Homo sapiens: one gene and its partner. The protein of the gene in region 1 interacts with the protein of each later gene in a pairwise test. Each region holds a gene or a part of one and is shown on either strand. Other genes may lie near its edges.

Region 1 (3,500 bases):
CCCCACTGATGCAGGAAGACAGTATTGATGTCTTTGTGTTGGGGACCAAGGTGAGGGGGTCGTAGGTAGGGACTGGAGGGACTTTTTAAATTTTTGTTGTTGTTTTTGAGACAGAATCTCTCTGTCACCCAGGCTGAAGTGCAGTGGCGCGATCTCGGCTCACTGCAACCTCCGCCCCCAGGTTCAAGCAATTCTCCTGCCTCAGCCTCCCGAGTAGCTGGGATCACAGGCATGCACCACCATGCCCAGCTAATTTTGTATTTTTAGTACAGAGGGGGTTTCACCATGTTGGCCAGGCTGGTCTTGAACTCCTGACCTCAGGTGATCCGCCCATCTCAGCTTCCCAGAGTGCTAGGATTACAGGCCTGAGCCACTGCGCCTGACCATAATGTTCTTGATGGCCTCAGGGCCAAGTAGGATTCAAGAGAAGACTTCATGGAGAGATAACATTGGGAGAGGGTTTGATGAATCCCCGACACCTCAAGTTTGTTAACAGCTTGTGCTACGTATGTCCTTTTAGTTTTCTTCTGTGTCACAAGATCTATTCTTACACAAACAAGCTCATTCTGCAGATGCAATTTTGAATCCTGTTTTACTTTGACATTGCATCACCTTTCCACATTATTATAAATTCTCCAGTTATTCTATTTATTCATTGTTCCACGAGCTGGACGGGCTTTTTCATCATCTAACCAGTCCCCTACTTTCGAGTATTTTAGATCATTTCCCGTTAGATTTTTTCATCATGATACTAATAGCAAAGAACGTCTTGGTGAGTCATCATTCTCCTGTGTTTATGATTATTTCAACCAAGTAGAAAACCACTCAAGGACGCTCTTCTCAAAGGGAGAAACAGCTAACAGAGACACAGCCTGCCCTTGCAGAGCGAGAGCCCCCTGTCACACAAGGCAGGCAAGCGGAGGCCAACCAAGAGCCCTTCCTGTCCCCTCAGCCCCACCTGGAAGCTTCAAATTGTGACCTCTGTAAAATTAGGACAGAGCCCGTGACCACTGACTCAAGGGACCGTCCAGCCTATGAAAGTGTTTGATTTGCTCTCCGTAGGGTTTGTTTTGTTTCAATTCTGAACTAGCTGTTAACATTTTGAAATTGGGAGATTTCACATACAAACCTGGATTTCTGGATTCTTCTTAAAACTAAGAGATCCAGAGATGAGAAGCAGCTGTCTCCTGAGACAGAGCCTGTGTCCCCGCTGTGGCCCTAGCTAACATGGTCCTGCTGCTGAGATGACACATCCCAGCCCTTGCACACCTCTATGACTGCCCACAGAGTCCTGAAAGCACCTCTGGCTGCCTGCCAGGCCTTCCCACCCCAGTATAGTTCCAGACCCCAGGAGGGCTGAAGTTTCTGATTAAACAGGCTCCCATGACAATGAAAGGGGGAGACACAGGGAAACCCTAACCTCCAACCACAAAAGAACCTGATCCTCAGCCTTGTCACCCCACAGCGGGGTTAGCACACATGCCACAGGGGGCAAGAGTCTGTGCCACAACCTGTCCTCTCCCACAGGGATGGTCATACTGTTCCTGCCTAGAGGGAACCTTAAGAGAATGTCATGAATTCCTGTACTATATCCGTCACCAAGCCATGTTACAGGCAGGGAAAACTGAGGTTCAAGGTCACACAGTTAACAGTGTGAGGAGGCCTGGCTGGGGGTGCAGTGCTTAACCCAAAGGTAAACCCTGCAGATGGTAGATTCAGGCCCTGGCCGATGAGACTGCCTACCCCCCAACACAGAGCTTCCACGATCCCCCACTCACTCATCCTCTGTCTCCAGGACGTCCCGGGGCACGGGCAGCAGGGACAGGAGGCAGGCTTGGCTCATGTGCTGGATCTCCCCTAGCCGCTGCTGGTGCTGAGGCTCCGACATGTGGTCCTGGAACTCCTGCAGCAGGAGGGAAAGAGGGATGGGCCTGGGGCGTGAGCCCAGAACAGTGGGCAAGGCTGGGGCCTGGGGAGGCAGACCCCAGCCTCATCACTGTGCGCCCATTTCTCTCACCACACATTTCTCTCTTGTGTAGGCTAGAGCAGGCATGATAAACTAAGACACAGGGTACATGCCAGCCCGAGCTTCTGCCCCTCCCAGAGAATGTGTGAGTGCCTCAAAGACAAGGAGCGGCCTGATTAGCATCCAGGTCTCCAAGGCTGTGCCAGGTGAGGCACAGAGTAACACAGCTCACAGCACAAGAGTAGTAATACAAGTACAATGCGATCATGATTACTGCTACACTCACTTTGGGCCAGGCCTGCGCTCAGGACTCCAATGTCACATTGCTGAATCCCCAGAACCACCCAGTGAGGTGGATTCTAAACGTTTCTTTTTTTTGTTTCGTTTTGAGAGTCTCGCTCTGTTACCCAGGCTGGAGCACAGTGGCATGATCTTGGCTCACTGCAACCTCTGCCTCCTGGGTTCAAGCAATTCTTCTGCCTCAGCCTCCTGAGTAGCTGGGATTACAGAAGCATGCCAACACATATTTTTAGTAGAGACGGGGTTTCACCATGTTGTTCAGGCTGGTCTCAAACTCCTGACCTTGTGATCCACCCACCTCAGCCTCCCAAAGTGCTGGGATTACAGGCGTGAGCCACTGTGCCCGACCCTAAACTTTCCTTTGTCTGATGCAAGAGGAAACAGGCACAGGGTGGAATTCGCTTTCCAAGGTCTCCCAGCTACTCAGAGCCGATATGAACCAGGTCTGACTGACTCTAAAAACCTGCTTGAGCCCAAGAGGTAGAGGCTGCAGTGAGCTGAGATCATGCCACTGCACTCCAACCTGGGAGGCAGAGTAAGACCCTGTCTCAAAACAAAAAACAAAACCACCAAAACCTGCCTTCTTGGCAGGTCAGGAAATGTTTCCCAAGCAAATGCATGGCTGCTTGGGGCAGGGCCCATTGCAGCCTGAGGCATTCTTGGGAGGGCAGGCTGGGCATTCCACGCAGGCCCCACCCCTCCCCACCCTTATCTCCTGTATCAGTACCTGCTGGCTGGAGCAGCTGGCCTTGCAGATGTAGCAGAAGAACTGGAGGGCCTGCTTAGAGGGAGTGCTGGTAGCCGCAGGGGTGGAGGAGACGGAGTCACTGGGGCGGGGGACAGGTGTCAGGGGTACAGTGCTAAAGGCCCGGCTGTCACTGCTCTGCAGAATGGTGACCTTCAGGGAGCCCCCGGCGCCCCATACCTGCATGGGGAGTAGGAACTGAACTTCCATCAACTGTGTACTTATAGTGGGCCAGCCCAGCATTCAACATCTGCCAACGTTGTCTCATCAGATCTTCCTGATGATAGGGAAACTGAGGCTCTGAGCTGTTAGCTGACTACCCCAGCTTGCACAGCTAGAAAGCACTGCAGTCAGGATGCGAACCCAGGTCGGCCTAAAGTACCACTCATCCCACCCCTTGTATGACAGATGGGGAAACAGACTCAGGAGGGAAAGGGTTTGCCCACAGTTACGCAGAGCTGGGACCCAAATCCCACAGAGAGGCTTCCA
Region 2 (3,500 bases), on another chromosome or scaffold:
AAGCTATAGTAGTGCCTAGTTTTGGAATATTCAGAACCATGATTCTTAAGAGAGTCTTTTTTTTTTTTTTTTGAGACAGGGTCTTGCTCTGTCACCCAGGCTGGAGTGCAGTGGCCTGGTCTTGGCTCACTGCGATCTCTGCCTTCTGGGCTCAAGTGATCCTCCCGCCTCTGCCTCTTGAGTAGCTGGGACTACAGATGCATACCACCATACTTGGCTAATTTTTGTATTTTTTGTAGAGACGGGGTTTTGCTGTGTTGCCCAGGCTGGTCTTGAACTCCTGAGCTCCTGGGAAAATTTCAGATATATGCAAAAATAGAATAGTATAGTGAACTAGTCCCCCATCTACCTAGCATCAATAATTACCCACTTTTTCCCCCTGGAGTATTGTAGAGCATCATAGCATTTACCCATAAAAACTTCGATATATAAGTGTTTTCAATGCAGCTGAAAATTGAGTTATTTAATGTATGTACATACTTTCTTTTCTTTTCTTTCTTTTTTTTTTTTTTGAGACAGAGTTGTTTCACTCTTGTTGCCCAGGCTGGAATGCAATGGCGCGATCTCGGCTCACCGTAACCTCCACCTCCCAGGTTCAAGCCATTCTCCTGCCTCAGCCTCCCGAGTAGCTGGGATTACAGGCATGTGCCACCATGCCCGGCTAATTTTTGTATTTTTAGTAGAGACAGTGTTTCTCCATGTTGGTCAGGCTGATCTCGAACTCCTGACCTCAGGTGATCCACCCGTTTTGGCCTCCCAAAGTGCTGGGATTACAGGCGTGAGCCACGGCACCCAGCCTTGTACATACTTTCTTAAAATGTACTTTCACTGCTCATTTTGTATTTGTGTGTTGCTGGGAGACTTCAAAGAGATACTCAACTGTCCATGTTCTCAGTGATAGAGGCCACCTTTCTGTTAATATATTGTAGCTTTTAATGGAAAAATCAAATAATTATCTTATAACTCAGGGGTGATTATCTCAGAAAGATGAAAATGTACTTTTTTAGAGATTTATAGATATGCGTATAACTTTTTGAGACAGGGCTCACTCTGTCACCCAGGCTGGAGAGCTATGGTGTGATCATGACTCACTGCAGCTTCAACCTCCTGGGCTCAAGCGATCCCCCCGTCTCAGCCTCCCAAGTAACTGGGACTACAGGCATGTGCCACCATGTCCAGCTAATTTTTAAAATTTTTTTGTAGAGATTGGGTCTTACTATGTTGCCCAGTCTGGTCTTAACTCCTGGGCTCTTCCCACCTCAGCTTCACAAAGTGGAGATTTAAGTTATGTGTTTTGTTATCTCAAAAACTTCAATAAACTTCAAAATCAGATTGTTGCCCCTCACTCGTGCCTATTTTATTACTTCTGCAATTTAAACTTGTTCTGTCTTTTTAGTGGAAAAATAGGTATATTTGTTTTTGGTTATTCTTTTCAGTATAAACTGAGTCTACTAGGTTTTTATTAAGTTTCTTATTTGATAGTTGTCTTCTGGTTCCTTTCCAAATTTTCTAAATCACTTGAATTTTTAAGAGCCCAAACATAGCAAGGTACTTTGTTAAAGGTTTGGCTAATGTGCTGAGGATGGAAAAACAATATCTAACATTGCAAAACTGTTTTGTTTTTTTTTTTTTTTTTGAGATGGAGTCTTGCTCTTTCGCCCAGGCCGGACTGCAGTGGCACTATATCGGCTCACTGCAAGCTCCGCCTCCCGGGTTCATGCCATTCTCCTGCCTCAGCCTCCTGAGTAGCTGGGATTACAGGTGCCTGCCACTGCGCCCGGCTAATTTTTTGTATTTTTAGTAGAGACGGGGTTTCACTGTGTTAGCCAAGATGGTCTCGATCTCCTAACCTCGTGATCCACCCGCCTCGGCCTCCCAAAGTGCTGGGATTACAGGCATGAGCCACCGTGCCTGGCCTTTTTTTTTGAGACAGAGTCTTGCTCTGTCACACAGGTTGGAGTGCAGTGGCATGATCTTGGCTCACGGCAACCTGCGCCTCCCGGGTTCAAGCAATTCTGCTGCCTCAGCCTCCTGAGTAGCTGGGACTACAGGCGCGTGCAACCATGCCCTGCTAATTTTTTGTTATTTTTAGTAGAGATGGCGTTTCACCATGTTAGTCAGGATGGTGTCGATCTCCTGACCTCGTGATCTGCCTGCCTCGGCCTCCCAAAGTGCTGGGATTACAGGCGTGAGCCACTGCCCAGGCCTCAAAACATTTTTAATGCATTCTTTTATAGTGCTAATTATTATTATTATTATTATTATTTTTTGAGGCAGAGTCTCGCTCTGTTGCCCAGGTTGGAGTGCAGTTGGGAGATCTTGGCTTACTGCAGCATCAGTCTCCGACTCCCAGGTTTAAGCAATTCTCCTGCCTCAGCCTCCCAAGTAGCTGAGATTACAGGTGCCCACCACCACGACTGGCTGATTTTTGTATTTTTAGTAGAGACGGGGTTTCACCATGTTGGCCAAGCTGGTCTCGAACCCCTGACCTTAGGTGATCCACCCGCCTCCCAAAGTGCTGGGAGCCACCACATCTGGTCTTGTAGTGCTAATTCTTTAAATAATTCTTTGTGTATAATTGTTTTTTTTTCTCTTTGCCCATTGCTTTTATTTGTTTCACATTTTACATCCTTCCCAAACATACTATATTTTTCACAGTAGCATTATATGTCTTACCTAGTTAGCTTGCCAGTTGGCAGAATGATTTTTAATTTTAATCTAGTGTCAGTATCCTCTGCTCTATGACATTTGTTATCGACCTCCAGTACTGGGCTTCTCATTAAGATAATACTTGTTATCGTTAGTCGTTAGTAAAATGTCTTTATGTGTTTTTTTTTTGTTTTTTTTTTTTTGAGACGGAGTCTTGCTCTGTCGCCCAGACTAGAGTGCAGTGTCACGTTCTTGGCTCATTGCAACCTCTGCCTCTTGGGTTTAAGTGTTGTGCCTCAGCCTCCTGAATAGCTGGGACTACAGGTGAGCGCCATCACGCCCAGCTAATTTTTGTATTTTTAGTAGAGGTGGGGTTTCACCATATTGGCCACGCTGGCCTTGAACTCCTGACCTCAGGTGATCTGTCTGCTTTGGCCTCCCAAAGTGCTGGGATTACAGGCATGAGCCACCATGCCTGGCCAGTAAAATGTCTTTAAAAGTAGTGAAAGGCCTTTTGAATCTTGTAGATTGTTATACTTAGATAATTTTTTTCATTGGCTTTTTACTCTTAGGGGATTTGTGTATAATGCTTCAAAATGTAGAGAGTATTTTATTTATTTGTTTGTTTTTATATAGAGAAAAAGAAGAATCCATTCAGCTTCATCAGGAAGCTTGGGAACGACATCATTTAAGAAAGGAACTTCGTAGCAAAAACCAAAATGCTCCGGACAGCCGACCAGAGGAAAACTTCTTCAGCCGCCTCGACTCAAGTTTGAAGAAAAATACTGCTTTTGTCAAGAAACTAAAAACTATTACAGAACAACAGAGAGACTCCTTGTCCCATGATTTTA

Evidence for each region. The genes of interacting proteins can lie anywhere in the genome.
Region 2: the proteins of CIZ1 (region 1) and UPF2 interact in a two-hybrid assay, tested with the Homo sapiens proteins (one large-scale study listed by BioGRID).

The regions. Positions count from the first base shown.
Region 1 is NC_000009.12:128,174,573-128,178,072, forward strand, and holds part of CIZ1 (cip1-interacting zinc finger protein), read right to left. Parts: intron 3,192-3,500; coding exon 2,994-3,191; intron 1,904-2,993; coding exon 1,779-1,903; intron 1-1,778. UniProt on the Homo sapiens protein: May regulate the subcellular localization of CIP/WAF1.
Region 2 is NC_000010.11:12,029,310-12,032,809, reverse strand, and holds part of UPF2 (regulator of nonsense transcripts 2), read left to right. Parts: intron 1-3,285; coding exon 3,286-3,500. UniProt on the Homo sapiens protein: Involved in nonsense-mediated decay (NMD) of mRNAs containing premature stop codons by associating with the nuclear exon junction complex (EJC).